4 separate regions of the Homo sapiens genome follow, and all the other regions are reported to be linked to region 1. The links are microRNA targets in miRTarBase. Many come from high-throughput screens and were not tested one by one. Region 1 holds a microRNA gene; each other region holds the end of a gene's coding sequence.
Evidence for each region. Region 1 holds the annotated microRNA hsa-miR-19b-3p (UGUGCAAAUCCAUGCAAAACUGA, at 3,932-3,954, shown strand). A microRNA usually pairs through its seed, bases 2 to 8, with sites in the 3' UTR of a target mRNA and lowers its output. Matches are read on the target gene's strand: a 7mer-m8 pairs with bases 2 to 8, a 7mer-A1 pairs with bases 2 to 7 and ends in A, and an 8mer does both.

Region 1 (7,613 bases):
GGAGAGCAGGGCTCCCAGGAAGCCCCGGGAAGCGTGCGCTTCCAGGAGGGTGTGCGGCGCGCGGGGGTCTGCACGCGCGCAGAGCTTGTTAACGGAGGGCGTGCCGGAGGCGTGGCGCGAGGTGTTCGGGCGAGGCGCTCCGCGAGGCTGGCGGCGGTGGGCGGGCCACGGGGGAGCGCGGCCCGGGGAAGGCTGCGCGGCGCCGCCAGCGGCTCCCGGCTCCCGCTCTCCCGGCCGCCAAGAACGAGCCGCCGTGGGCGGGGCCTGCGGTGATTGGCGGGCGGGCGGGGAGGTCGGAAGTACTTTGTTTTTTATGCTAATGAGGGAGTGGGGCTTGTCCGTATTTACGTTGAGGCGGGAGCCGCCGCCCTTCATTCACCCACATGGTCCTTCGAGGTGCCGCCGCCGCCGCCCGACCTGCGCCTTCGCGCCACTTCGCGCCCTCGGGCGAGGCCGAGGGGGTGGGGACGACTACCGCAGCGCCGCCGGGGCTCGCGCTCCTCCGCGAAGCTCTCCTCGCGGGGCGGGCCGGCCGGCCGCACCCCCGGCCTGGGGCCTCCGGTCGTAGTAAAGCGCAGGCGGGCGGGGAGGCGGGAGCAGGAGCCCGCGGCCGGCCAGCCGAAGATGGTGGCGGCTACTCCTCCTGGTGAGTCTGCCCGCCCCTCCGGCGACGGAGGGAAACCTGTTGTGTGCGGCCCGGGTCTGGCGGGCGGGGCGGAGCGGCCCGGGGCGGACTGGCCCGGGGCAGCGTGGCGGCGGCGGCGTGGCCGGGGCGGGTCTCGGCCGTTGGCCGCCCCGGCGTGTGGCAGCCGCATCTGGCTGCCCCCTCGCTCGCCCGCGGGCCGGCGGAGGGGGGCAGGGCCGGGGCGGGAGGGTGGGAGGGGGCGGCGTGCGCGTGGCGGCCGCGCCCGGGACCCGCGCAGACCCTGCCTGGGCCGACCCGAAGGCGGGTGGGCGGACGGCGAACACAATGGCCCCTCGGGGAGAGGACGTGCGAGGCCCGTGCCTTCTCCGGGGCCCGGGGCGCGCGCGGGGCGTGGGGTCTCTGGGTAGGAAAGTTTCTCCCGAGGGCGAGAGTTAAAGCGCCTCCAGAACAAAGCGGCGGCGGCGGCGGCACATGGGGCAGGCCGCGGGCCGGGAGGGGGCGCGCCCACGAGGTACCTGCGCGCCAGCGGGCGGCGTGGCGTGGGCGGGAGCCCGCGGTTCCCCAAACTTTGTACGCGCGAGGGTGGGCGGAGGGGCGCCGAGATCGGCGCGGCCTGGGCGCCACCCCCGCTCCGCGTGGGCTTTGTTAGCCCGCGTGGGCAGCCTCGGGGCGGGGCCCGCAACTTCCCCGCCGTGGCCCTCGGAGGAGGCCGCAGTCGGCCTCAGCCGCGGCGTGGAGCCGCCTGCGCCCGGCCGCTTGCTGGGAGTGTGGCGCGGGAGGGCCAGCCCGGCTCGGCGGGAGCGGCGTCCCCGCCGCCATGTTCCTGCGGGGCGGGCTGCACGGGGGTGAGGGCGGGGGACATGGCGGCGACTGCGCGCCGCCGCCGATTGTTCCCGGCTTAGGCCTCGGGCCGCGTGCGACGGGCACCGCGGCCGCGGAGCCCCCGCCCCTCTGGGCCGGGCTCGGGGGGGCTGGGGGACACAAAGGAGGGGCGGCGCGCCCGCGTCCCCGCCGCACTCGGGCCTCGGCGCCGCCGGTCGCCGCGCGGCTGCCGCCGGGAAACGGGTTGGGGGGGTTGCCGCGTCCGGCGGGGCCTGACTCTGACCCGCCGCCCCCTGGCGGCTACGCGGAGAATCGCAGGGCCGCGCTCCCCCTTGTGCGACATGTGCTGCCGGCCCGGGCTCCATGAGCGTGGCGGGCACTTTGCAGTCTCGGGTGTTCCTGCCCGGTCTTCTGTTCCTAAACTGCAGCAAAGGGAAAAGGAACTGAAAAAGGCAGGCTCGTCGTTGCAATATCACCAAAAGAGAAAATTAACGGCATGCCATCAGGACCACAGCAGTTGGAGAAACAACTCTTTATCCCGGCTTGCAGCCACGAGGTCTTGATTGGGGGAGGGGTGGTGAAGAATAGTCTGTGGGCTGCTTTTTTTTTTTCCTTTTACTGGAGCTGTACAGTGGAGTCGGTGATTGCTGCTGATCATAATCAAGTATTTTAGGAGCTTATTTAGACATGTATCTGATAGCTAAGGATTTTTCAACTTTATTCTCTTACGTATTTTTCAACTGTAAATTATTGGGCTTTTAAATCCTGCTAGTATTGCTCGACTCTTACTCTCACAAATGGATGGAATTAATTGCTGTTAGGAGGTTGGAAAATAGCAAATATAGATTTGGACGGTGGTAGTAATTTTGAGCAAATAATGTTTTATCTTTTTTTTCCTTATTTTTCCCTATTCCAGTCATACACGTGGACCTAACTGCACCAGTAGCTTTTCTGAGAATACTTGCTGAAAAGGAAGTTTTCTGGAATGGGTAAGTGTATTCTGATTTTCTTGAACTTTTCTTAAAAACAAATTTTTCTTGCTATTAAAGTTGAATAAATAGGATTGGTTTCTTAGAGAGTAAAAGTAGGTGTTTCTTTCTTTAGACAATGTACCTTTTCTGAAAAACTAACTCATTAAGTACGGATTTGCTAATTTTAAGGTAGTAAAATTACAGTGTAAATATTCCTGTACATTTTTGGAAACTGGCTTATGCAGTTTACGAAATATAATTTTAGACCCTCTTTTAAGTTGGGTGATAAAGTAGATATAACCTGAGATGATAGATTTAAACAGGATATTTACGTTCTGCTACAATTGACTGATAACACTTGAAGTGTAGTCTGAACAGTAATTTTGTTAATCATTTCAACAAGTATTTGCTAAGTGGAAGCCAGAAGAGGAGGAAAATGTTTTGCCACGTGGATGTGAAGATTTCCTCTAAAAGGTACACATGGACTAAATTGCCTTTAAATGTTCCAAAATTAGTTCTCATTTATTTGCAGTCTCATTTTGTTTTGTTTTTTTTCTCTATGTGTCAATCCATTTGGGAGAGGCCAGCCATTGGAAGAGCCACCACTTCCAGTGCTAGTTGGATGGTTGGTTATGATTGCCTTCTGTAAAGAATTCTTAAGGCATAAATACGTGTCTAAATGGACCTCATATCTTTGAGATAATTAAACTAATTTTTTCTTCCCCATTAGGGATTATGCTGAATTTGTATGGTTTATAGTTGTTAGAGTTTGAGGTGTTAATTCTAATTATCTATTTCAAATTTAGCAGGAAAAAAGAGAACATCACCTTGTAAAACTGAAGATTGTGACCAGTCAGAATAATGTCAAAGTGCTTACAGTGCAGGTAGTGATATGTGCATCTACTGCAGTGAAGGCACTTGTAGCATTATGGTGACAGCTGCCTCGGGAAGCCAAGTTGGGCTTTAAAGTGCAGGGCCTGCTGATGTTGAGTGCTTTTTGTTCTAAGGTGCATCTAGTGCAGATAGTGAAGTAGATTAGCATCTACTGCCCTAAGTGCTCCTTCTGGCATAAGAAGTTATGTATTCATCCAATAATTCAAGCCAAGCAAGTATATAGGTGTTTTAATAGTTTTTGTTTGCAGTCCTCTGTTAGTTTTGCATAGTTGCACTACAAGAAGAATGTAGTTGTGCAAATCTATGCAAAACTGATGGTGGCCTGCTATTTCCTTCAAATGAATGATTTTTACTAATTTTGTGTACTTTTATTGTGTCGATGTAGAATCTGCCTGGTCTATCTGATGTGACAGCTTCTGTAGCACTAAAGTGCTTATAGTGCAGGTAGTGTTTAGTTATCTACTGCATTATGAGCACTTAAAGTACTGCTAGCTGTAGAACTCCAGCTTCGGCCTGTCGCCCAATCAAACTGTCCTGTTACTGAACACTGTTCTATGGTTAGTTTTGCAGGTTTGCATCCAGCTGTGTGATATTCTGCTGTGCAAATCCATGCAAAACTGACTGTGGTAGTGAAAAGTCTGTAGAAAAGTAAGGGAAACTCAAACCCCTTTCTACACAGGTTGGGATCGGTTGCAATGCTGTGTTTCTGTATGGTATTGCACTTGTCCCGGCCTGTTGAGTTTGGTGGGGATTGTGACCAGAAGATTTTGAAAATTAAATATTACTGAAGATTTCGACTTCCACTGTTAAATGTACAAGATACATGAAATATTAAAGAAAATGTGTAACTTTTTGTGTAAATACATCTTGTCTTGTTTTCATTCAAAAACATTTCACTTTTGGGGTTGCGTGTCAGATTTGGCAGTATAAATTCTGGCTATATTTTTTGTTGTTAGATTTATTTGGCTGTTAAGTATTGCGATATGACTAAACATACTGTATACCTGATGATCATCTGTAAAGTTAGAGTATATCTTTTTGCTTTCTTTGGAGTTAGTGTTATTCCAGGATATTTTACTTAATCTAAAAGTTAATTTATGTTGCTCATATATTACTCAAGTATTTAAATTTAGAGAGAATGCCGCTCTGTTTAAAGCAATGTGTAAAGATGAGTTTTTTTAAGCATGGAATTTAGGGTTGGGGTACAATTTGTTTCTATTAAGCAAGTACCAGTTTACCAATACATGAGTAACTGAAGTGTAACTGTTAAATGCTTGTATACTAGTTTTTCTTTCTGATTGTCAGTGATTTATAAGCTATAAATGACCAAGGTCCTCAGACTGCTTTTAGCATCTGCAACTTAAAAAAATGGGAGTTAGAAAAAGAACAAATGCTAAATAGAGTAACAGTTAAATGTATGTGTACACTCTTCCCAAATGCCAAGAGTGCAGCGGTGGGGTGAGATTCAGATATTCATTTATTTCTAAGTCTGTAGTTAACATTTATGTTCCCTACTCCCTACGTAAGCCAGACTTTGGCAACAGTGATAGTTGATTCCAGGCTTATTTGACTTAAAGTCACTGAAGTGGAAACTAAGAAGTGGCAGTTAGTGTTTTACCCAGCATTTCTGCCTTCTCTCTTTTCTTCATGTGTTTTTGTCTCTAGCCTATGTGTATTTGTGTAGAATAATGTGGGATACCTGAATAATAGATTTAAAAGGACCAAGTGGTAAAATTGGGCCCAAGCTGAAGTACAGGCAAACTTGATGTTTGAAAGATAAGTTTTGAGAAATGTCATTGTATTTTGGAGTAAAAGAGGCTATCTTAGTAATAAGAAATAAACTTCCATAACACTAGGTTAGACCACCCAATAAATCTAGAAATCAGCTTTTAAAAATATTGTCTGAAGTCTAACAAAAGTTTTCACCTCTAATGTGTTCTTTAAGAAATTTAAGGAACTTAGCCTTGGATTCCTGAATAGAAAGGTAAGAATTCTATCATTCTGGAGTTGATGAAAACATAAATTTTCAGGATGTGAAATGAACAGTGATTTATAAAATGGAAATCAAATTGTACATTAGCAGAGTTCTTAAGCTTTTTGAATTGAAGGAGACCTAATAATTGTGTCTTTTTGGTTATTTAGTGACAAACGTGGCTTTCAAACTATGCTTAAAAAGTTCCGGCTGGACACGGTGGCTCACACCTATAATCCTAGCACTTGGGGAGGCTGAGGCAGACGGATTACCTGAGGTCAGGAGTTCGAGACCAACCTGGCCGACATGGTGAAACGCTGTCTCTACTAAAAATATAAAAAATTAGCCGGGTGCAGTGGCGTGCACCTGTAATCCCAGCTACTCTGGAGGCTGAGGCAGGAGAATCACCTGAACCTGGGAGGTGGAGGTTTCAGTGAGCTGAGATCCTGCCACTGCACTCCAGCCTGGGCGCAAGACCAAGACTTAAACGCAAAAAAAAAAAAAAAAAAAAAAAAAAAGTTTCATAATACAGCATGGTCTGGTAGTTTGCAAAATGGTGTGCTTTTGGGGAGATACACTAGCAATTTTTTTAAAAACTGGAACAGTGTGATAGGAAGCCTGCTGGATGATTTCTTAAATATTCTAAAATGTAAGTCAAATATGTTTTAATAACAAAGACTTAAATGGCTTTTCTCCCTAGAGACTGAAACTAGTATTCATTGTGTTCAGAACTTAATTGGGCTTGAACTGAGATTTAAATCTAATAAACAAGTTAATAAATGTGTATGTTTTGTTGTGGGTTTGGTAGTGATCTGTGGTTCTATAGGGTTTAATAGGAATTGCTTTTGATTTGTTTCTGGCTTTAGAATGTGAGGCAAATTTTACATTCTTGGTTCTATTAAGATTTTCTTAGGCATGCTAACATGCCAACAAAAAGCCATGTAAGTATTGTATAAAAAGATTCACATTGTTAATTTAGCCATTTTGAAATTCAGATGAGTGAGCAAGTTGATAATGGCCTCATCTCTGACCTGAGAAAAAACAACTTTGACCCTTGTTCTTAAAATGCTTTAACCTTGAAGTTGCTTGAGACTTAAGAGGTCATGTTGCTTTAGGTTTAATAAATAGCCTTAACTATTTGGAGGGGAAAAAATGGGTCAACTTTTTTTTTTTTTTTTGGCGTTTGCATGTACAACTTTCTATTTTTAGCCTATATTTGGAAAGAAAGCACTTAACATTTTAGGAATTCTTTTTAAAGCTGCTTGCAAAGTGTTGGTGATTTTACTGAAAACTTTTGAGATCTTCATTTTACAGGCAGACCTGTCTAACTACAAGCCAGACTTGGGTTTTCTCCTGTAGTTTGAAGACACACTGACTCCTGACAAAATGCAGCCTGCAACTTCCTGGAGAACAACTCAGTGTCACATTAAAGTTTATTATGTATTTAATGATACACTGTTTAATTGACAGTTTTGCATAGTTTGTCTAACTTTAGAGAATTAAGAGCCTCTCAACTGAGCAGTAAAGGTAAGGAGAGCTCAATCTGCACAGAGCCAGTTTTTAGTGTTTGATGGAAATAAGATCATCATGCCCACTTGAGACTTCAGATTATTCTTTAGCTTAGTGGTTGTATGAGTTACATCTTATTAAAGTCGAAATTAATGTAGTTTTCTGCCTTGATAACATTTCATATGTGGTATTAGTTTTAAAGGGTCATTAGGAAAATGCACATATTCCATGAATTTTAAGACCCATAGAAAAGTTGAAGAATGCTTAATTTTCTTATCCAGTAATGTAAACACAGAGACAGAACATTGAGATGTGCCTAGTTCTGTATTTACAGTTTGGTCTGGCTGTTTGAGTTCTAGCGCATTTAATGTTAATAAATAAAATACTGCATTTTAAAGCTGTTAAGAAATTGTCCAGAACGAGAATATTGAAATAAAAACTTCAAGGTTATTATCGCAGTTTTTATGGCGTTTTTGTTTTGTCACTACAGATGGTCTAAAGGTTACTTATTAATTAATTGGGGAAGTGGAGACAAGGACCAAAGTTTATCTGGATTTTCTTATTTAATCTTCATTACCTGTGAAATATGTATTTGTATTCTTACTTTACATATGAGATCAGAAGTTCATTTTCAAGCAGAATGGAAAGGTGGTAAATGGACTCTGAATTAAAATATGTCAGTATTTTAAAAGGTTATCTTCTGCCTAGTATTTTTATGGAATCTGACAAGTTCTCAGATCACACTTGTTTCCTTAAATCTTGGTAAGTCTGAAGCATTCTTCATTTTGTTTATATTATA
Region 2 (7,613 bases), not on the chromosome of region 1:
GGAATTGGGCCCCAAGACATGAGCCCCAGGGAAGGACAGGGCACCCAACCCCGGAGTCAGTGAATGGGAAAGAGTGGAAGAGGGAGGGGAGCCAGGATCTCACATGCCTGCCCCACCCTTTCTGCCCTCAGGTGGAGAGTGTGACTGCAGGATCCCCACTCACCAACCAGTTCTGGCTGCTCCCCGAGGTGTCTGCTACAGGGCTGACCATGACCTGGGCCGCCTGCACCCTCGTGTGATGGCCTTGAAGGCCCAGAGCCCCATCACCAACCTCTGACAGGTATACTCACTGCCCCATGTTGTCAGGACCTGAGACCCTGGGCCCCTGTCGCCCAACGTCCTCTGTTCCTGCCCTCAGGCCCTGCTGTCCCCTGCAGCCTCCCATCCCCTGAGCAGGGCTGCCTGGGCAGGCTGTGGCCCCTGTCTGATTGGAGCCAGCTCTGGGTGGCCCTCATGTGGAGGGAAGAGCACCAAGGCCCCACCCTCCCCTGGGCCTGCCTGGGTGCACACTCAGGGGCCTCTGCTCTTGCCTCCTAGGCCAGGGTATCTTCACCTGTGGACTGGTAGGGGCCCTGCAAGGTGCCCTGCTGTGCAGCAGCGCCATCCTGAAGTGGAACTTGTACTCAGACCTTAAGGATCTTGTCTCTAGGATCTGGGCACAGAAGAATTAGTTCCATCAGGGAGGAGTCAGAGGAATTTGCCCAATAGCTGGGGCATTAGTTCCTTGCACATATAAACCACTCTTATTTGGTTCTGATGCCTGAAGAGAGGCCTAGTTTAAATCACAATTCCGAATCTGGGGCAATGGAATCACTGTTTCCAGCTGGGGCAGGTGAGATCTTTCCACCTTCTATAATATGCCATCCCTACTAATAGGATATTGACTTGGATAGCTTGATGTCTCATGACGAGCGGCGCTCTGCATCCCTCACCCATGCCTCCTAACTCAGTGATCAAAGCGAATATTCCATCTGTGGACAGAACCCCTGGCAGTGTTGTCAGCTCAAGCTGGTGGGTTCAGTTCTGTCCTGAGGCTTCTGCTCTCATTCACTTAGTGCTACGCTGCACAGTTCTACACTGTCAAGGGAAAAGGGAGACTAATGAGGCTTAACTCAAAACCTGGGCATGGTTTTGGTTGCCATTCCATAGGTTTGGAGAGCTCTAGATCTCTTTTGTGCTGGGTTCAGTGGCTCTTCAGGGGACAGGAAATGCCTGTGTCTGGCCAGTGTGGTTCTGGAGCTTTGGGGTAACAGCAGGATCCATCAGTTAGTAGGGTGCATGTCAGACGATCATACCCAATTCATATGGAAGTCCCGGGTCTGTCTTCCTTATCATCGGGGTGGCATCTGGTTCTCGATGTGCCAGCATCAAGGCACCTTCAGGGAGCTCGGTACCCGAGCCTCAATCAAGCCTTATCCTCCAAATATGCAGGGAAAGGTGACACAGGGCAGGGAAGGGTGACGTCAGGAGTCAGGGCATCGACTGGTAAGATTACTTCATTGTGTTGAGGCAGGCTGCAGGGCATTCCACACAATGGCACAGCAGAGGACAGCACAGGGAGGCAACAGAGTGTTCCCAGCAATGGCCCAGCTACTGAAAGCAGGCAGCCAGGCTGGGAGGAGTCAGGTGGCAAGAGAGTTGGTCAGGAGCAGAACATGGAAAGCCAGAGAAAGTGTGCAAAGCCCAGAAATGGCATCTGCAATTTACTGGTACATGTGTGTGTTGGATGGAAGGTGAAGGAAGGCTCAAAAGGCATAAAAAGGACCTTTCACTTATGTTAAACTGACATGCCAAAGGTCTTATTGGAGTTCATCTTAATATAATATTAATAAATTTATTGGCCGAGCGTGGTGGCTTACACCTGTAATCCCAGCACTTTGGGAGGCCAAAGTGGGCGGATCACGAAGAAGAGATTGAGACCATCCTGGCCAACATGGTGAAACCCCGTCTCCACTAAAAATGCAAAAATTAGCTGGGCGTGGTGGCACGCACCTGTAGTCCCAGCTACTCGGGAGGCTGAGGCAGGAGAATCGCTTGAACCTGGGAGGCGGAGGTTGCAGTGAGCCAAGATCATACCACTGCACTCCAGCCTGGTGACAGAGCAAGACTCTGTCTCAAAAATAAAATAAAATAAATAAATAAATAAATGTATTAAATCCATTGCTTTAACATTTTGAAATTTATTTTGGTTTCTGTTCAACAAAACCAAACCACATTGGGATGGCATTTACAGAAGCTCAGAAAAACATTATGCACTGAAAAATACTTCTCATTAGACCACAACAAGCTTTAAAAAAATAAAATTAAGTAATTATAGTTAAGTTACAAAAAGCTGAAAGTATAAAACATTGTGGAAACAGTGACCATCTATTAACTGGGAAAACACAAAAGAAGAGAAACAATTTCAACCATTAATCATTTATCAAACATGAAGTCTGGTGCATTAAAGGAATATCTATCAGAGGGTGAGGGGCTGGCTTACTGGCAGTTTGACATACTATACAGCTCAGACCCAAACCCTTCACAGAGAGACTCTAAGTGTACATCTGACTTGCAGAACTAGACGAGTTGAGTCACTGTTAGCTCTGGATATACCGTTAAATTAAACCTCAAAATCTCTCCCCAGGACTCTTGCTCAAGCAAGTCACGCCAAATCCAACCTTCCTAACAGGGGTTTTCAGAAAATGGCCTGCAGAAGCACAGGATCTGGTGCCTCACAGTTTCCTCCATGCTGCAATGCTCTAGTTCTCATCACGCCCATAGCATCTGGCATCAGGTTACCCTGTACAGTCAACGGCCATAGAAGTCGCCAGCAGGGAAATTCCAGAGGTTTAGAATTCTATCAGCACATGTGTCACTGGAAGCCATCATGGGAGTACTATGTCAGAGCGTATGTAACTAGCTGTCAGGTCTTTCCCCGTTGCCTCAGCCTTTCTACACAGACTGGCCTTCAACTTCCCCTGAGTCCAGAAGTAGACTCTTTCAGCAACTCTATTCAGGAATCTGCAGCAGGAAAACTGCTTCCTCTATTAACATCTATGACTGAAGCACAGATGTGTCTAATAGAAATCACCCTTCACCCAAAAGCTGGGCGCAGAAAGGGAAGCCCTTAGCTGACTATAGGAGGTGCCTCTTGTGGCTCCACGTGCTTCTTACACACCACCCCCCAGCTTGAGCGATGCCTCAGCCAGCTCACCCTCATCCACACAATCGCTAGAAAACATGCTTCAAATATTCTATCTTTGAAAAGACACCATGCAGAAAATAAGCTTTCCTCTGATGTGCGGTATTTTCTTCAATGCTATTTCTTTCTTTTTTTTTTTTTTTTTTGAGACGGAGTCTCGCTCTATTGGCAGGTTGGAGTTCAGTGGCACGATCTCGGCTCACTGCAACCTCCGCCTCCCGGATTCAAGCAATTCTCCTGCCTCAGCCTATCTAGTAGCTGGGACTACAGGTGCACGTCACCATGCCCGGCTAATTTTTGTATTTTTATTAGAGACGGGGTTTCACCATGTTGGCCAGGATGGTCTCGATCTCTTGACCTCGTGATCCCCCCGCCTCGGCCTCCCAAAGCGCTGGGATTACAGGGGGAGCCACCGCGCCCGGCCTTTCTTCAGTGCAATTTCTAAAGAGAAACTTAAATCCTGTTGTATTCTTTCAACACAAGCAATGATACTTCTCAGAGTCTGCTCAAAAGCTCAGCTCTGTGGACTCCGTGACAAAATGTACGCGTCCACTGCCGACCCTCTTGGTTTCTGAAACCAACCTTTCTTCCTGCTCTCCTCTTTAAGAGCAAACCCCAACATGTATAAGGTCACAGCAAGTGGTAGCCAGGAAAAGCTGTGGGACCCCTCATTTGAGTCACATCCATATGGCATGGAGAAAGAAAACCTCTCTGCCAGAAGGAACTGAACTCTGGAAGTCCTAAGGAAGGTCACCATGATCAGCAGATAGGAAAGCATTGCCAAGGGCTGTCCCTCAAGAGCTTAGTTTTCTTAGGGAGACCAGAAAGACATCAGATCCTGACTGCCCTGTTTTGCTCAAGTTCTGAAATGAGTGGCATGATGAAGAGCTGGTGGAGCTGAGGGAAAGAGTCAACCATGTGGGGTGGGGTAGTGAGGAAGGTGTATGAGGAAACAAACTGGGCCCTGACGAAACAGGCGGATTGGGGAAGGAGAAAGAAGGAAGGGAGAGAAACCTAACCAAAGAAACATGGGAAGCTGGAAAGTCGAGGGCACAGCCGGAATAAAGGCACAGATGGGCACCCCACAGGAGGGGCCTTGGCCAGGTTGGGATGCAGAGAAAAACAGGCAGGAGGGTGTCAATCTATAGCATCCTGAACCCCAAAAGGTCTGTAACTGGATTCTCTAAGCCTTGAGAAGTTCACACCAAAGCTTCAGACCAGGGAAAATATTTTGGAAAGATCAGTCTTTCCAAGAGTGAGCTCCTTTCCAAGAAGCTGGACAGGAAACCCAATAAATGTGGATCTGAAAAAACAAAATCCAAGAGAGAAGCAAAATGGGCTGGGGGTGTGCAATAAGAGAAGCAAGGAAAATGGAAAGACTGTAGCTGAGGATCTTTTATTAAAAAAAAATGGATGGGACTTTGGTGATGAGAGAGAAAAAGGGCAAAAGTCTGCAGTTAGGAATTTAGGTGACCGAAGACTGTCCTAGACAGTTGGGAGGGACAGGCTGATGGACAGAAGAGAGAAATTCCTTTCAATGACAACCAAGCTGAACTATTCGATACCAGCAGAACTGGGTTCTTTAGGGATTAAGCCAAGACAAAGACTTGGGAATCACTCACTCCGAGGATGAAGAATGGGTTAATGGCTGAGGAGACAGTCAAAGGAATAGAGAGGCCTGGCTTTGAGGGCCTCTTCACCACCAGCACAAGATAAGGCAAAGGACCATTTGTCAGAGACACCAAGAAAGGGGAATTTCCATTTGGATGGTCAATAGTGTCCAGTTCTGCCAAGGACAAGACTAAGCTTTGAGAAAAAGCCATGGATTTGGTGATTGGATAACTGGTAACCTTTAGAAAAGTTTAGTTGACAGACAGAGACCGAAGTGAGTTAGTAAAAGTCATGAAGAGAATGAATGGCAACTTAAGGGAAGCAACATACTGGAGAAGTTGAGCAGCGGGATGAATAACAAATAGGACAGATGGGAACAGAAAAATCTGGGTGCATACGAAGGTGGATGGAAAGGAGCTGGTACAGATGGGCACAACCAGAAAACATGAGGAGGGGAAAGGAAGGGAAAAGGAAGGCAGGCAGGGAGAGAGACGTGAAATAGCCACAGTCTTAGGGGATGCTAGAGAAGCCTAGAAGATTCCTCAGGTTGGTGCAAAGTATTATAAGACTAACGCATCAGTACAGAGAATGACCCAAGAAGGGTAGGAGTTCATTCCTTACCTTCATAAAGTAGGCTATCCGCCAAGAATGAAAATGTCAACTCAAAGCTATGGGCTGTTTTAAGCAAGGTGGAAGATAATATAAGAAGCATGGTCCTTTCTTCAGACTTACTGCCTTGACAGCACAGAATTCATCTTATTTCCCTCATCTCCCAAGTTATTTGTATTTCCCTGAGATCAGCTCAGAAACAACTCTCTTTAGGCTCTCTACAATGCGGTAGAGCATGATTAGAAAAGATAAACCTTCAAACAATAGTGTTGTCCAAGACACTACCCTCACTTATCCCAGGGGAACCCACGGAATTTCTTCATTTGTATTAACTCCTGACATGGCATGGAAGAAGAATTTTTATCAAATACCCTTGGCATCTTATATCAGATTAAAGGACCATTAAATACACTGAGGTAAAATTGGCAGAGAGTATAGTTTCTATTAATAAATCTAAGTCTATTTTGTCTGTTTTAGGCAACAAAGGCAAAATGGACTTTGTGGGAAATGTATCTCATAAAAGCCCTTTGGAAAAACTGCAGACCAAAACCAAAACCCTCCTTCATGTTTTCTCGCATGAAACATAAACTTGCCCTATTTCAAAAAGTTCCTACTGAGTATGATTGTGTGAAAGATCACACTACTTCAAATCATATTTATTTTAAAAATCTGTGATGGGACAGTGGCCTCACTGCCAGGAAGCCCAAGTTCTGTTTTATGCTCGGTACAACTAAGTGGAAGTTGATTCACTTTGTCTCAAGCTACATAAAATAATCAGAAAATCAAGAAGATCTCATGCTAGACAGGTTAGACTTGCACCCAAAAAAGCATCTTTTTTTTTAACCTGCTGTTTTGGTTTGCTGCTGAAGTCTTTGAAGAGAATTATGTATTCAAAGTAGCTCTTTGCCCATTGGCATTTCCCCATCTTCTATGTCTTCTGTAGGGCACATCCCCCCCAAAGTAAGAGGCCTTAGTAGAAAAGCACTTCCACCTGCAGTTTTCCCCTAGGTCTGCAGAGAGAAACAGTGCAGAGTGCAATGCCACAGTCAAGGACCAACTTTCCTACAGAGCCCGGGCCCCAGGGAGGGTGGTCAGCAGCGCAGCCTGCCCAGGCTGGGATCTCCCTTTGGTCATAGCCGTGTTTCCATATACCCCTCCACTCACCCTCAGAGGAGGAACGGATGGAAGCCACCAGCATAAATAAAGGGAACACAGAAGAACAATGTCACCAAAGTGCAGGTGCAAAGCCCAAAGCAGCCCCCTACCTCTGCCAGCCCAGACCCGCCACTAAATTCTAGAGGAGGGTGTCTCTCAGGTCACAGTACTTTTTTCTTCATTTCTTTTGATTTAGAAACAAATCAGCAGGGAGGACAAGGTTCTCAAGGACAAAAAAATCAAAGCTGAAACGAGAGCAGCACAATCCATTGGTGACGTTCATCTTTTTCCAGAGGAATATACCATTCTGTTAGGACTTAGGGGAAAAAAGATCTTTTAGGAGGTGCAGGGAAAACATTCAGAATTAAGACATACTGACCCACCACCACAGAAACAGCAATTAATTAAAATAGCACACAAAATGATTTTTAAAGTTTGAAATGAAACCTAACACTAGAAAGATATACACTTGATGGAGAGAGAGGAATCCTGGCTTCTGCTTCATACTGTTCTGTACTGTTGTGAATTATTTACATGTGTTTTTTGTTGGTGGTGGTTTTCTTCTTTTTTGAGACGGAGTCTTGCTCTGTTGCCCAGGCTGGAGTGCAGTGGCATGATCTTGGCTCACTGCAACCTCTGCCTCCGAAGTTCAAGCGATTCTCCCACCTCGGCTTCCTCAGTAGTAGCTGGGATTACCATGCCCAGCTAATTTTTGTATTTTTAGTAGAGATGGTATTTCACCATGTTGGCCAGACTGATCTAGAACTCCTGACCTCAGGTGATCTGCCTCCCAAACTGTTGGGATTACAGGCGTGAACCACTATGCCCAGCCACATGTGTATTTTTTTAAAAATCATAAGCCATGTGTGGTGGCTCACGCCTGTAATCCCAGCACTCTGGGAGGCTGAGGTGGGTGGATCATTTGAGGTCAGCAGTTCAAGACCAGCCTGGCCAAAAGGGTGAAACCCCATCTCTACTAAAAATCTAAAAATTAGCTGGGCGTGGTGGTGGGCGCCTGTAATCCCACCTACTCGGGAGGCTGAAGAGGGAGAAC
Region 3 (7,613 bases), not on the chromosome of region 1:
TGTATCTTTGGAATAAAGACTTTAATAACAGATCGGGCTGACAATGAAAGCTATCGTCTCAATCCAAATTGAAGACAGGCTTGTTGTAGTCCAGTGCTGCTAAAACATTGAGCTAATCATCATAATATTTACAGAATCATATCAAGGAAGATCCTGAAATTAATAAACGGTTCTTGAGTAGTTATAATCCTTTAGGAGATTGTGAACATATAAAAATTATACTTTTTGACTATGGCAAAGTCCTAATCGTTTAATAATGTGCTGTTTGTCGAAGCTAGCCAAAGCATGTATTGTTTATGTGCACTCTTGAGGAAGGTGATGCCATCAGGATAAGGCAAGGCCTATATATTTCCTCATGCAGGGAAAGGTTAAAGATGATCAAAATGTTATAGAATTGAGAAGAGAAATCAATATAAAAACCATGGGCTTTAAAGCCCTAAATCTTACCATGACAAGTCCTGTGTCACTTGTTAGTGTGGAACATTGGCATCCTGTTTAATGTCTTTGAGCCTCAACCTAGCCATTTGAATATGGCAGTATTGAATAACTCTGTGTAGTTATTGTGCAAACTTAATGAAATGATCTCCTTCTTCATAAATTCCTTAAGTTATGAATTTCCTTCTGCCTAAAGGTGGAACTATATCAAGCACCTTGACTGAATCTTAGATATATTCCTGGGCTTTAAGATATTTAATGTAGTATATACTGGTTACAGATAAGTAAATTGAAACCAAGTCAAGTGATTTAACAATAATTATAATTATAATTAAGTATAATTAGTGAAAAACATGGAACTAAACAGGTCTCTATTCTTTTTACTGTTGTTTATGTATCCTTTGTTTAATTATAGATACATGTACATTTCTTAATTTGGTTTCAAGGATTCTTTTGTTCTTTGTAGGACTGACTGATTTTTTTACAGCTTTAATTTTAAATGCTCACATGACTTAACATTTGTTCTGGCTGAAAGGGCTATAATTGCTTTTTTCTTATTGTAACTGCCATTTAGGAACTTGCATTGTACTGTTGAAACTTTATTCAACCAAATTATAGCATGGGAAACTGGATTTTAGGTCTGGAAAAAAAGTCTGAAGGCTTGAAAGTATGATCACATCTTAATGACATAGAGTAAAATAAACTACTAAACTAAGGATATTTTATGTTTGCTCAATTTATGTTTTTTGTTTTAGATGGAAATAGAGAAGCTGAAAAAAGCTGTCCTGTCTTCTTGAGTGGTGTGGACCTGGTGTTCATAATGTTCCAGGGATTCAGAAGCAACGCTATGAACTTCAGCTGACTTGTTACTTAAAAATTGTGAATTCTGTTGTTGTGATAAATATGAGCAAATGAAGTGTAATATCTATAGAAAAGTAGAGTGAGGGTGAATTTATATATATATTTTGTTTTGCCAATATGAAGAAAAAGAGGCCTTATTTCTTAACTGTGCTGGGATTGCAAACACTTTTTAAAAAATTGTTTGCTTGAAAATACTACTGAATATAAATAAGAATGTGCACAGTAGTTTTTTTATTGAAACTTGTATTATTTTTAAAGAGATCTATACTATAAATATGGTGATATATTTACAAGTAATCTGTTAAGATATACTATTTGAGAGGGACAGATTAGCCTTTTAGTAACTATAGTCACTACTTTTTCCATAATGCATAAGGGATATAAACTCTGTGTGTGTGTGTGTGTGTGTGTGTGTGTGTGTGTGTGTGTGTATATATATATATATATTTTTACTTTTATCCTCTTACCGAAGGTTACACTGTTGTGCCTGTTTGTCTGCAATGCTGTTTATATTTTGGGTGATGAAATAGGAGTTTCCTAGCTATATAAACCAGATTACTCACCCATGCATATAGTAAGAACTAATGAATAATCAAAATAATTTCATCAACTTTTAGAATATTTTATGTTGCTTGCACTATAGGAGTCATAAAAGGAACTTAGTTAAAATATGTTGGATTGTTAAACATTTGGGGAAATATGAACTGTATTTTAAATTTGTTAGGTCTGAAGAATCTAAAACTGTTAATTTAACCCTTAACTTGTGCCTAGAAACTACAGCACATATAAAATATGTAAACACCAGCCTGTTGCTGTACTTTTCTGCTTATTTTACAGCCTCAAATATTTCTCATTATCTTGTCACTTAGTTCTTCATGTTTCTCCTTCTGACTTTTAATAATGGTAATAGGAAAACAAAACCCAAAGCTTTTCAGAACTTCAGTGTGAGGTTTCCTATTTTGACAAGTTAACTTGTAAATACTCAGGTTTTACGATGTATAATTTACCTAATAGACCAAACTAACTCATGGAGATATTTTGAACTATTATTTAGGTACAAACTTTATAAAGAATGTTAGTATGTCATAAAATATAACATTACAGCTTATTTAAAACCAAATATAGTTGAACATATTTAAAATACATTTTCACAGAATGGATGAATTAGTTGTTTCTTCAGAGTTACTTATGAACAGTTGAATGCTTTAAAATGTTCTGTCTGTAGGTAACATCTAAAACACAAGTGGGTTTATTTAAATTTTTAAAATTTGAAATTTTTTATTTGCAAAAAATTGTTTTATGCTTTATTATATCGCAAATGAGTGTCAGATTTTTGAGTACCAATGATCATGCTTCCATTTTTTTTAGTTTTAAACCACCAAACCAATATTTTTCCTTTAAATTTTAATCTTATAATATAGAAATCTTATGTAAATGAAATTTTGTCATGTTTCAAATAAAGAGAACTGAAGTAGAAAATAGAAATGCCAGTAAACAACATAATGTTTAATTTACAACTTACATTAGGGGTTTGGGGGAATGCTAATTATATATTGAGAATATACATTAGAACTCTTCAAAATGGGCTCTTCTAATGAGGTCACTACTGAACAAAATTGTTCCCTCTTCTGTTAAATAGAATAGGTTTAAATGACTAGTCAAATGAATTATTTTCTTCTTGTTAAATAAATTAAATCTTACTTTCTTTTAATGACCAACCTTAGGTAAAACAAAAATATTGTAATCCTAGAAATTATCCTCCAGCTTTCTCACCTGAAAATCTATTGAAGTGATCCCTGGTCATCCTAATAATGGGATGAGGGAAGTTTCCAGCAGATTTCAGGCTGTTCTTAAAGTTTTTGTTGGTCATTTTCTCAATAGTACATGAAATCAAGATGCTTATGAGCATGGAAATGTATTTAAAGTTTTTGCTTGTGTCCTCCTCAGTCAGAATAGAAAAGTAACTGAAATACTTTTACCTTTCTGTCCTTGATAAAATAGTAAAGAAAACCAAACAAACCCAGGCCTGATGGGAAAAATGATTCCTTTATTCTAGCAACTTACTTTCTGTTGGTATGGGAAATGTTATTAATTTCTATTACTAAAGTTCATATCACAAAATGATATTTAATAATAACCTTGGGGTAAATCATGAATTTTTTTTCTACGTGTGAGTATAAAAGACAAAAGTTGAACAGCATGGAATCTCATTGCCAAATTATTAGTGAATGTATAGTTCAGGTATTCTTTGAGACACACAGTATCATTAATTTCTGAATTGTATTTCAGTGTTATTTTTTGTTTGTGACCACTAAGCTTCTGTCTTAATACAAAGCTGTTACCTTCTACAGAATTTAAGTCTGAAGATGTAAAGAGAGAACAGGCCTTGTGTAACAGAAGATACTCTTTTTTATGCTCCTTACTGTGATCACAGAAAAATTAAAAATCCAAGTGCTCTCTAGATTTGTTGATAAACATTTTATGCTTGCATTTAAACTTGAAATGTATGAGCAGAATGAGACAATCAGTTAAATCAGAAATGAGAAGTATTATAATGTAAAGGCCTTGTTTTGCTGTAGCAATAAAATGACCAAGTGCAATGACTTGATTTAATAAAATCATATTTTAAAAGTTGCTGCTATGAATATTTTTGGCTATAAAATTTTACCCTGACTTGCTTTCAATAACTGTTACGTAATGCAGTTGATGTTGTAACCTAACATTCCAAAAAAAAAATTGAGAGGGGGAATCTCAAAATAGTATATACTTCACTAACTTGTTTACAGGTGCTGTATTTAAAAGCATGCTTCTCTCTCAAAAAGAAAAATTAAAGGATTTTATTGCCAGTCGTGTCAGTCTTTATTGGTTATTTTTTGTTAACTTTAGCATTTGTGTATTTCAGAGTATGATGAAAATTATATTACTTCAATTTCCAAATACAAGAATAAATAGTAAACCAAAAACATTAAAAATTCTAGACCCGTATGACTTTTACTGAACTTTTCTGAGTCTGGTTTTTCATCTGAAACTGAGACAGTAATTTCTACTTTACAGGATTATGGGGAGAATTTGAAATAGTTTATCTAAATGGCTTTGTAGAGTGCTTGGCATAGAGTAGGTTTTTTTTAAAAAAAAAATGGAGGCTGCTGTTTTACCTTTTTAAAAAGCATTTTACAGTGATGGATATGATAAAAATTAGATGGATAAGGTTAAGAAAAAGGAGGCATTGTGTATCCTTTCCCCCTGAATACGGTATAGTATCCTTTTCTTTGGGGAGATGCTCCTTTCATTTGTATTATATTGTTCAAAGGGGAGCTGCTACCATCTTACAGATTCTACCTCCTTGATCACCCCACCCAGGAAATCCCTTGAGAGAGTACTTGGCTCAAACTGAGTTACTGAGTTAATCAAAGAATGAAATTTTTAAAATTGGAAACAAAAAGAGCTAATCTCAGCATGGGAGCTCTCCACAGTTCTGTTTTTCTGTCATCTGGAAAAAGCTGATTTGAAAAACAAAATTTAGTAGAGCATAGATAGATGGAAACAGAATCTGGAAGGACTTTGAAACTGATTGTAGCTGTTGCTGAGTCTCAGCTGTCTATTGCTTGGTTCTATAAGCACAGACTTGCTCATAAGCTTGTTGGGTTTCTGAACTCACAACCGAAAAAGTCCTGATAAATAACAGAAAACAAGATGAAATCAGGAGAACATTAAGGTCCACATACTTTTGCTGAACATAGATCACATATAGCTTTAGAGATTCTAGTAGTGTGCTGGAAGATTTGAAACAGAAGGAATAGGACACCACTATAAAGCAATGTGGAAAATTAGTGTGTCATAAGATTTTTAAAATCTTATTTAAAAAATTTCTAGTTCTTACTGGCTTTTAGAAGCACTAGACAAAAAACTTTGGAGGCATATAATGGTAAAAGTTTTGGACTATAGAATTTGTGTTTGAAGAGTGCAGATGGTTTTGTCTGAAAATACAATTTGCAAATTTAGCCCAGTTCTAGGAAATAAAAGCAGGTAGCAGTTTAACTCACCTGGATTTATTAGGCTGTATTCTCAAGATGCAAGAGAGACTGGGTCTGGGTGTTAAAATTTTTTTTTCTGAATCCTGTTGCATTTATTTTACCACTGACACCATTTTTGTGAATCTGCTCTTCCATGTAAGGAAAATAAATTCACAAATAGATATCAGTATTTTTTGTATAGAGTCAATAGTTTTTTTCTGTCATGAAAGGTGTGGCTATTTTGCAACTATTGGATGGTATTATTTCCTATCAGGTTCCAAGTGTTTCTTACTGACTACATTTCAGTTCCCTTTAAAAGTGTGTGAATAAAGTTATTGAAAGTAAAACTACATTTTAAGTGCATTGAGAAACTTTTTTTTTTTTTTATTCCAGTCAGGGTCCTTCTCTATTACCCTGGCTAGAGTGCCGTGGTGCGACCTCAGCTAACTACAACCTCTGCCTCCTGGGCTCCAGCAATCCTCCTGCATCAGCCTCTTGAGTAGTTGGGACTACAGGTGCATGCCACCACACCCACCTAATTTTTTTTTGTTTGTTTTGTTTTTGATACTGGGTTTCACCATGTTGCCTGGGCTGGTCTTGAACTCCTGAGTTAAAGCAATCCGCGCTGCTCCCCTCGGCCTCCCAGAGTGCTTGGATTACAGGCATTAGCCACCATGCCCAATGAGTAACAATTCTTTAATAAAATCACATGTTAACTTTTCATGGTAGAGTGGATTTTTAGAGATATTCCTAAACATTAACTGAACAGAATGTAAACGATGTGACGGAGTGATGACATTTTTACTGTCTTTTCCTCCCTTGAGACTCATTAAAAACAGTAAGTACAATGAAAAAGATTTGATATTAATAGATTAAAAAGCAGATTTAAGATAAAAACATTGCTTTTCAGATGAAATAAGGAAGCTACAATTTATAATAGTAAAAATACCTTCCAAATGTTTTGGAGGGAGCAACCTGAAATCTGATATAAACTTTCCCAGACTTTGTGCCAGATGCAGATTTCTCTGAAAGGCTCATCTGATCATTGTAGGCTCAAATCCTGTACAGAAGGATAGCTGGGGAATGTGGAGCTGAAAGAGAAGCCTCACTAACTGTAAGCCCTAATAATTGGAAGTCTGAAAACCAAGGAGAAGGAGACATGCTCTTAGGGAAGACAGATGTAATGAGAGAATATTTTGGCTAACAATTTATAGCTCTTCTTCCTTGCTGTGCTATTCATCAAATAACTGACACCATGGAAACGTGAGTAATCAGACACAAGTATCTTTATGGATACCTGTGTTTTATATAACAAAAAAAAAGTTGTCCAGAAGAAAACCTTGATTAAAATCCTTTATGTCCCAGGAGGAAAAAAATGGCATGATATGTAACACCAAGACATCTGTTAAGTTATGGAACTTTAAAGAATGAATACTGACTCAAAGAAGAAGTTGAAATTTTTAATTGACTAAACACACCGTAAGTGAATTTGAAACGTATTTAAGGCTCTACAACTGAGAAAGACAGCAAGGCCAGATGATGGCTGTGTTTTAATTGGTCTTTAAGCTACTCAAACTGTAGAAAAAGATGGAAAGCCACCCAATTTATTTTATGAATCCAGCATAACTTTAAACCTGATCATCATAAACCAAATCTCACAGGGAGAGATTTCATATCAGGAAATTTATCAATCTCAATGCATGATATGAAATTATAAGAGAAAAATAAAATGTTCACTTTGATAAAAGGAAGGGGTTTCCTGTACTGGGTATGGTGGTGAAGAACACAGTAACAAAATGGTACCACTGTCTTGATGCGTGCCTAGCAGTTCTAGTCACCGTCACCACTGCGTTTACACTAGCAGTGCAAATCTCAACACAATGAGAAAAGCAACTAGCATCTTCGTATTATCATGAAAGTTGTTTTGACCTTGTGGACCACACTTTGAGAACCACTGACCTAAAATGACCTAGTATGGTCTTTAGCATGTAGTAGACAATCAGTAAATGTTTAGTGGATGAATAAGTGACAAAAGGGGAGGTATTCTCTCTACCCCTTGTCTTTACCGTCTCCTACCTTTTCTTCCTTCCTCAAATATTCAAGTATAATATCTCCTCAAGACTAACCACTATCATGCCGATTGCTATAAAACAGACATTCTTCCAGGGACTGCATTAGGCTCTTAAAATGTATTTAACAAATTTTATATACTGGACTTTAGATGGTCAGTTTACCCTACATTTTATAGTAAACTTACCTTTAAAAGTAGGCATCGCGTCAAACATAGCTAATGTTTATATTGTG
Region 4 (7,613 bases), not on the chromosome of region 1:
AAACAACAGCTAGCCTTGTTCAGTTAGCCAAACAACAAAACCTTAATTCAAGTCTTCAATGAAATTTTCTGATTTAATAGGCTGAATTAAGAAAGCCATAATTTTCTTCTATAAATATAAGCCTTTAACTTCTATCTTTACAAGTTTATATAGAAAAATTTACTGTGGGGCTTGAGATTTACTAATGCATGGGTTTTCAACCTTAGCTGCACTTTGGAATCATTTAGGACGCTTGGAAATCCCTACACCCAAACCACATCCCAGATCAATTACACTAGAAATCTCTAGGGGTGGGACCCAGGTGTCTGTAAATATCCCCCGGTGATTGCAATGTGCAGCCATGGTTGAGAAACACTGAAGCCTGCTCTGAGAAATTTAGCAATCCGACTTAATTCAAATCTGCAGAGAGAGCAACAATGATTTTTGCAGAAACAACCAAATCCTACTAGTTACATAAATTTTATACTTTGTTAGGACTTGGGTTTTTATTTAGCTCTACATATGCGATCATAGGATGCAGAAGATATATCTTCTACTGGACACGTATATATAGATGCTTAAATGTGGCTATCCCAAGGTTAGGTAATAATAAAGACTATAAGAGCTGGGCAGAAATCAGGCACAGTTTCATGAAGGGTAATATCTGAGCTGGGCCTTGGAAGATGCATAGGATCTCAACAGGACAGTAGGTGTTTCAAGCAACAATGAACTAGGAATACAGCAGAAAGCACAGGGGAAATGGTCAGGCTTGACTGAGAGTAGGTTATTTGAAGAAGTGCAATAGAAAATGCTTGGGGAAGAAAGTTGGGATTTAATTGTAAAAGGTCTTCAAGTATCAGGCTAAGAAATGTGGACTTCATCCAGTAGGTAATGTGATGTCACTGGATATCTGTGCAGTATCTATGTGATGGGTTGGGAGTGGAGAAGCCTGGGGATACTTAAGGGTCTGAGCTAGGAGGGACAGGAGGAATGGCTGTGGGAGTGGAATGGTTAGAAGATGGGCCCAATTAGAAACATACTTCAATTTGAGACAAAACCCACTAGAAATAAACACATCATCATGAAACATCTCCAAATGTACAATTTTATTTTAACAGATTTCAAGAGTCCATTTTTTAAAAAATGAGCAATAAAGAACCTCTATCAGTGAGACTTCTCATTTTATAGCAAATACATTTTTGCAGCTTAAATTTTCTTGAATTCATATACGCTTCTGTCATTTAAACAAACTTCCAGAGAAAACTGGTCTCTATATATTTAAGTAACAAATTTGACAAAATACATATTTATACATATATAGATCTCTAATATAAATATTAAATTTGAAAAAATCAAATGTGAAGCAGAAACTGCTATACAAGTATATTGTATAATATTTATTTTATACATTAAAGTATTTGGTTGAATATACTTCAATTAGGTTTCTAAAAAACACCATTATCTGCTTCTTAGTAATTGCGACATTCTTGAAAAGCATGTGAAACGGGTATAAACTTCAACTCTGTGCTTAATTCAGAATTCCTGTTTGTTCTCCTCAAACTTTTATCTTCCTAAAGCATCTTGCCAGAGACTACAAAGGAAAGGAACATTTACAGAGCACTATAAACATGTCTTTGGACAGTAAAACAGTATTTATTCTTCTACACTCTTGATTTTCCAATCATATCTTCCTCAAGGCAATGTTTCTTTGGCCCAATTTGTGCAACTAAACATAAAATTTCAAAACACAACTTTTAACAGTGTGATATGAAATGCAGTGGCAGTCCCTGCTTTTCGCCTGCTGGCTTCTTTGAAAGAAACTGCTTGGCTAAGGGACTCAGTAGAGGGCTGAGATCTGCCTGAGTATAAAGTGCTACCTGAGCTATATTTACTTCTTCCATCCCTTGGTACAATCAACAGCAAATAGACAAAATGAAGTTACCTTCCTGAGATACATGGCTTACTTTGTACTCTGCCTTTTAGGAGATGAGGTAAGACATATACATAGATGGCTTTTACTAGCCAAGGCAATGTAAATGGACTAAGATTCTCATGTGACTTGAGGTTATCTGATGAATTTATTCTCTTCAAAACCACCTACTTTTAGAGGGCATGTTTAACCCCTCTCTTTATTTAAGGAGGGAGAGAAAAACACATGTAACCAGAATTCAGAGTGGGTTACTCAACCTAAGAGAACATACGGAGTTCTCTTTGGGAAAACAACAAGACTACAGTGTTCACTTCGCACCATGAAGTGGCACTCCTGTTATGGCTGTCAGAGTCCTCTCACTTCTTATGAAAGGATGCATCTGATTCTGAAATTACTGATATATTCGATCAGTTAGGGATGTTTTAAAAAGTGAAAACAAATGCCACACATACACTTTCTAGCTTTCTGAAATCACCGAACACATTACAAAAAATAGAGAATTTACCCTATTAACTTTTAGAGAATTTTCCAATAATATTCTTGGTTAAAGAAGCCAAGTTTGTGCATATTCCCAATTTTCAGTGTTCTTGTTTTTATGCACAAGAGCCAAAGTAGTATACACATATTTTTAAGGGCTTTTTACAATGAACGATATATAAAATACATTCTATAGTTGGTGAAAGAATAATCTTAAGAGTTGGCATTAATCTTTGAACAAAAAAGATTTCAAGCCACTTTCTTTACAAAGAAAATATAATTTCATTGTGAACTATATTTCTCTAATTTTGCCAATTTTATAAAATACAGCATATCCCTGCTTTAATACAACCAGGCATGCTGTGCTGACTGGTCCAATAAATCTAAGTGTTATTTAAGGGAAAGCAGGCAATCTGTTCATACCCAAATTCATACAAGTTTCAAAGAAGCATCAAAGGATGCTACCTACATTCAAGCCACATTGCAATATTAGCTAAGCCACAGTTGCACTCATGAGAGTGAAACTACAGAATAACAACTATTGAAGATTTTAATAGAGTCAAAAGATGAACTGGCAAACCAGGTTGTGGAATCTATTCAGCCTCTCTGCTCTGCTGGAGTGGTTGATTTAGTCTGGTAAGTGGCATATTCAGCTCCACCATCTGCTTTCCTGCAAACCAAGGTATAAAGATCATGTCAAAGATAAATATAATTAAGTACAGAAATTAAATTCCAGAAGCCTATTCAGAAAATGAACAATTAAAAAAATATAGTAATGAGCCACCAACCTGGGAAATAAATTATTCTTTTAAAATAATTTCAAATGTTCAACTGGTCTCACTGTAAAAAAAACCTTCCTTTATCCCTGTCTTATATTTTTGATCCCCTCCAAAACAAGAAATAGAGCAGTAGCACACAAAGTACTTAGTAACTATGTCCTCATTTTGATGTAGGGCCAATGGGAAAGACTGGAGACAAACGCATGCTTTCCTGATCCCTCCATTTTAAAGCTGTAGCTCTGGCACAGAACCTTTAAAAAGATAGTGGTTCTAACTGTTCAAGTATGTGATGCCTCATCTACCCCTCACTGTCAAGAAAATCATGTATTCCACTAAGAGTCTCCTAAATAACTAAAGTTTACGTCACACTTTTAGTATAACAATAGACATCTTTATAAAACCTATTATTCTAGTCTAGTGCTGGCCAAAGACAGATGATGCCAGTCATACATGTAATTTAAAATTTTCCAGAAGCCACTTTTAAAAACATAAAAAGGCAAAAATAATTTTATTTTCTTTAACCGAGTATAACCAAAATATTGAGATGTATTTTACATTTTTTTGGCTTAGTCTTTGAAATCCAGTGTGTGTTTGACACTTGCAGCATACCTGACATTGGACTAGCCACTTTGGAAGTCCTTAGCAGTCACGCATGGCTATTGAACTGGACAGCACAGCTCTGGGCCCTCCCTGCCTTAGTAAATTGACTTTAATAGACAAACGAAAACCAAATTCGGACCAGTCATTATTTACTAGTATGTGTGCCACAGCAAACACATTGCCTTTCCAATGTCACAGCTAAGCATGTTAATTCTGGATACTTTAATAACCCATTTATGCCTAGTGTTCCATTACTGGAACGCTAAGCATGTGGAATTTATCTCCTACTGCTCAAGGTCATCGCCAGGGTCTGACTGCAAAAATTCAAAAAATTGCAACCTCAGGCGTAAACGGGTTGGTTCTTCTTTGCCGGGGAGGCCATCATTATGGTTCTCTACTGCGTCATTACTATACTTATAATATTGCAGTTCCCTAAGGACTGTTGTGATGACAGACTTAATGGTTTGGCCTGTCACTGAATTCTCCAAGACCACTATATTTTTCTTTTCTTTTCTTTATTTTTTTTCCTTTGAGACAGAGTCTTGCTCTGTCACCCAGGCTGGAGTGCAGTGTGGTGTGATCTTGGCTCACTTGCAACCTCCTCCTCCCAGGTTCAAGCAATTCTTGTGCCTCAGCCTCCTGAGTAGCTAGGATTACAGGTGTGCACCACCATGCCCAGCTAATGTTTGTATTTTTAGTAGAAACAGGGTTTCACCATTTTGGCCAACCTGGTCTCAAACCTTAAGTGATCCGCCCGCCTCGGCCTCCCAAAGTGCTGGGATTATAGGTGTGAGCCACCAGGACTGGCCACCACTATATTTTTCTAAGTAAATATTTTTTTCCCATAGTAGTAGAATCTCTTTCTTTAAATAAAGTTTTAAATAAAAATCCAATCTATGCCAAAGATAAAAGGCATTAACATAAATTTAAAGAAACATTTATTGGATATAACAATGAAGCTATTTTGAAGATGGCAAAATATTAACTACAGCATTCATTAAATTATCTTCAAATGTTTACAGATACCCTGAAGCTCAGAGAGAGTCTAAAAACTATTTTCCTAGTTGGCTTTAGTCTCAAAAGTGTCCTAAGAGACTAAGAAGATATAGTAGGCTTCCCTTATCCACGGTTTCACTTTGCACGGTTTCAGTTACCCATAGTCAAATACGGTCAAAAATATTAAATGGAAAATTACAGAACTACGTTTTAGATTGTGTGCCATTCTGAGTATCATGATGAAATCTCACACTGTCCCACTCCATCCCTCCCGGGATATAAATCATCCCTTCGTCCAGCATACCCATGCTGTGGACACTATGTGCCTGTTACTCAATAGCTGTCTTGGTTATCAGATTGACTGTCACGGTATCACAGTACCTGTGGTTAGGTAACCCTTATTTTACTTAGTGGCCTCAGAGCACAAGAGTAGTGATGCTGGCATATTTTTATAATTGATATTATTAGTTATTAGTTATTGCTGTTAATCTCCTACTGTGCCTAATTTATAAATTGAATGATCATAGGTATACATGCTTAAGAGAAAACAGTATATATAAGGTTTAGTACTCTCCCAGGTTTCAGGCAACCACTAGAGGTTTTGGAATGTATCCCCCGTGGATAAGAAGGAACTACTGTATATAGGACTGGGTAGGCCCAGACCGCCAATTCTGGTTGGTATGTTTTGTCTTTCCCTTTCCTCCTGTAACCAAAGACATCACTTTGCTTTTACTAAGAAATTGTCCTTCCAGCTGGCCTTTGTAGATCCTGCTCCCAAACTTTTAATTATAACCTAGGTTAGGGCCTCACATTATAAGAGGTGGGATATGTATCTCCATCTCTTCCCAGCTCTGCGGACACACATTCTAGCACAAACAGAGGAATAATTCCAGTTCAGTTCAAAGACAGAAGGTGGACAGGGTCCAAGGGTTTAAGGCAATGCAATCCATTACTTTTCAAAATCTGAGGACTTTTTTGTTTTCCTTTGATATGCTAAAAATATCCCAGCCCAGGGAAACTGATAAAATGTCTTTACAGAGTTATTTATACGTTGGAATTGAATAAATTTACAAAACTAAGTAAAATATATTTTGGTTTCTATAAAAGGGCATTTTTCCTCCTTGCACTTAAAATGAGTTGATTCTGTGGTTATTTCCCAGTTGGCTCACAAATTCTTACTTTTGGATTCACAGCTGTTTTACAAGGTAGAAGTGAGATCGTCTGATAAAAGGACTAGGGGAACATAACTCTATTTAAAGCCTACGTCAAAGCCTGTCAGTACACATTATGTTTTCAAAGGGAATGGTATAAGAACACATCAATAATTTAGCAAAGGGAACAGGAATGTAAATTTCCTCTTTGATATTTACTGCCAATATCTCTTTGCTCAGGTTATTGATATCTATATATCCACTGAATATTTTTCAAAAGAAAGGACATCTGAAAATAAACAACAGAAAACAGATACCTTTTAATGATAAAAGCAAACCTTTCTCTCATCTCTCCTTCTCAGAGAGAAGTAAATTTTACTTCTCTGTGGGTCTCATCAGTTAGGTATGTGCTGAACAGAGGAAGAGAAAACGGCTGAATAAAATAGTGACTTCAAACCAAAAAGAAACGAGTAGCATAACAAGTGGGATAAAATCCAGTGTAAGAGAGTAGCAGGAAAGCTGAGAATTAGGTTCATAACTTAAGACTTTCTCATTCTCACTGAAGGACTGGAAACATGAATTTTGTGCTAGAAGCTACTTGAACTTTGAAGTCATATAGATCATCCAGCAGATAAACAGACTGGAAATTCCTGTTTAATATGTTTATCTTTGAAGCCATTTTGCATGAAGTGATTCATGTCAAAATGTTTTCAAGGAATAACAGATTGTTGGGGAGAAATGGTACCGGTCTCTAGCACTCTTGATTTTTTTTTTTTTTTTTTTTTTTTTTTTCAAGACACAGCATCTCACTATGTTGCCCAGGCTGATCTCAAACTCCTGAGCTCAAGCCATCGGCCTGCCTCGGCCTCACAAAGTTGCTGGGATTACAGGCGTGAGCCACCAAACCCGGCCTAACACCCTCAATTTTGAGGGAATACATTGAGTATGTATCAAATCCATGTAATATTATCTAGAAATCAACTTTATGACATCATGTATTTTCAGATGTCTCTGGACTTTTACATTAAGAAGTGTCTTCCTGTGGCACATCTGTTTTCAACCTGAGGAGACATCGTTGCAAAACTTTGTATTACATGGCGTCTCATATTTCTGAGATGGATCTAATTTTGTAAGGATGCTTTCTAAACTAATTACAAAACATTTTTGTAGTTGCTCAAAAATTTTTGAAGGGTTAAATGCTCAAGAATTTAAGGGCCAACTAGAAAAACATTTAAGTTAATTTGATCCTTTTTTTGCCCCATGTCACTATATGCCCCAATTACCTGAACTGACCACTATTTTTAATAAAGTAATTGGGTCAGTCAATATTAATGTAACATTAAAAGTCAGTTTAGGTTATACAAAATAATAAATACCATTAATGGAAAAAAGGAAAAACTATTTGTCACAGGTAATAAATATATAAATTATGTAAATAACTTTCACTAACTTAGCCAAACTGTCACTTATCCAGGGATGCTTAACTAGAGTTAAAAAATAATCATGCATTTAAAAAAAACCATTACTTAAATATTTATGTAAACAAAAGGCATCTGTTGTTCAGAAGCACAGTCATGCCATGCAATACAGGACTGAAGCAGTAGCAAAGACAGGGCTGTGGCTTCCAAGACTAAAAAGTATGGTAGAAGAATTAGTAAAGAAAGGAAATGGGAAGGGAAAAGGAGGGAGCATGTGGATGGG

Region 2: the mRNA of TGOLN2 is a reported target of hsa-miR-19b-3p. Seed matches in the 3' UTR shown: 7mer-m8 at 6,644-6,650, 7mer-m8 at 5,346-5,352 and 7mer-A1 at 4,531-4,537.
Region 3: miRTarBase lists CD2AP as a target of hsa-miR-19b-3p. The part of its 3' UTR that is shown has no 7-base or 8-base seed match.
Region 4: the mRNA of CD46 is a reported target of hsa-miR-19b-3p. Seed matches in the 3' UTR shown: 7mer-A1 at 1,699-1,705.

The regions. Positions count from the first base shown.
Region 1 is chr13:91,347,314-91,354,926 of GRCh38, forward strand. MIR19B1 (microRNA 19b-1) reads left to right here and starts at 3,879; the gene lies at 3,879-3,965. MIR17HG (miR-17-92a-1 cluster host gene) reads left to right here and starts at 374. Exons shown (of 3, transcript NR_197388.1): 1 at 374-646; 2 at 2,385-2,457; 3 at 2,843-7,264. MIR17 (microRNA 17) reads left to right here and starts at 3,292; the gene lies at 3,292-3,375. It overlaps MIR18A (microRNA 18a), which reads left to right and starts at 3,438; the gene lies at 3,438-3,508. It also overlaps MIR19A, MIR20A and MIR92A1. RefSeq lists silencers at 43-822, 873-1,862 and enhancers at 1,412-1,959, 1,960-2,507.
Region 2 is chr2:85,315,867-85,323,479 of GRCh38, forward strand. TGOLN2 (trans-golgi network protein 2) reads right to left here. Exons shown (of 4, transcript NM_006464.4): 4 at 2,161-6,875. The coding sequence ends at 6,870. Among named protein-coding and RNA genes, the nearest start is that of TGOLN2, 8.3 kb to the right of the region's middle.
Region 3 is chr6:47,622,996-47,630,608 of GRCh38, forward strand. CD2AP (CD2 associated protein) reads left to right here. Exons shown (of 18, transcript NM_012120.3): 18 at 1,191-4,268. The coding sequence ends at 1,232. Among named protein-coding and RNA genes, the nearest start is that of ADGRF4, 72 kb to the right of the region's middle.
Region 4 is chr1:207,788,962-207,796,574 of GRCh38, reverse strand. CD46 (CD46 molecule) reads right to left here. Exons shown (of 13, transcript NM_172351.3): 12 at 6,230-6,322; 13 at 1,071-3,056. The coding sequence ends at 6,271. Among named protein-coding and RNA genes, the nearest start is that of MIR29C, 9.2 kb to the left of the region's middle.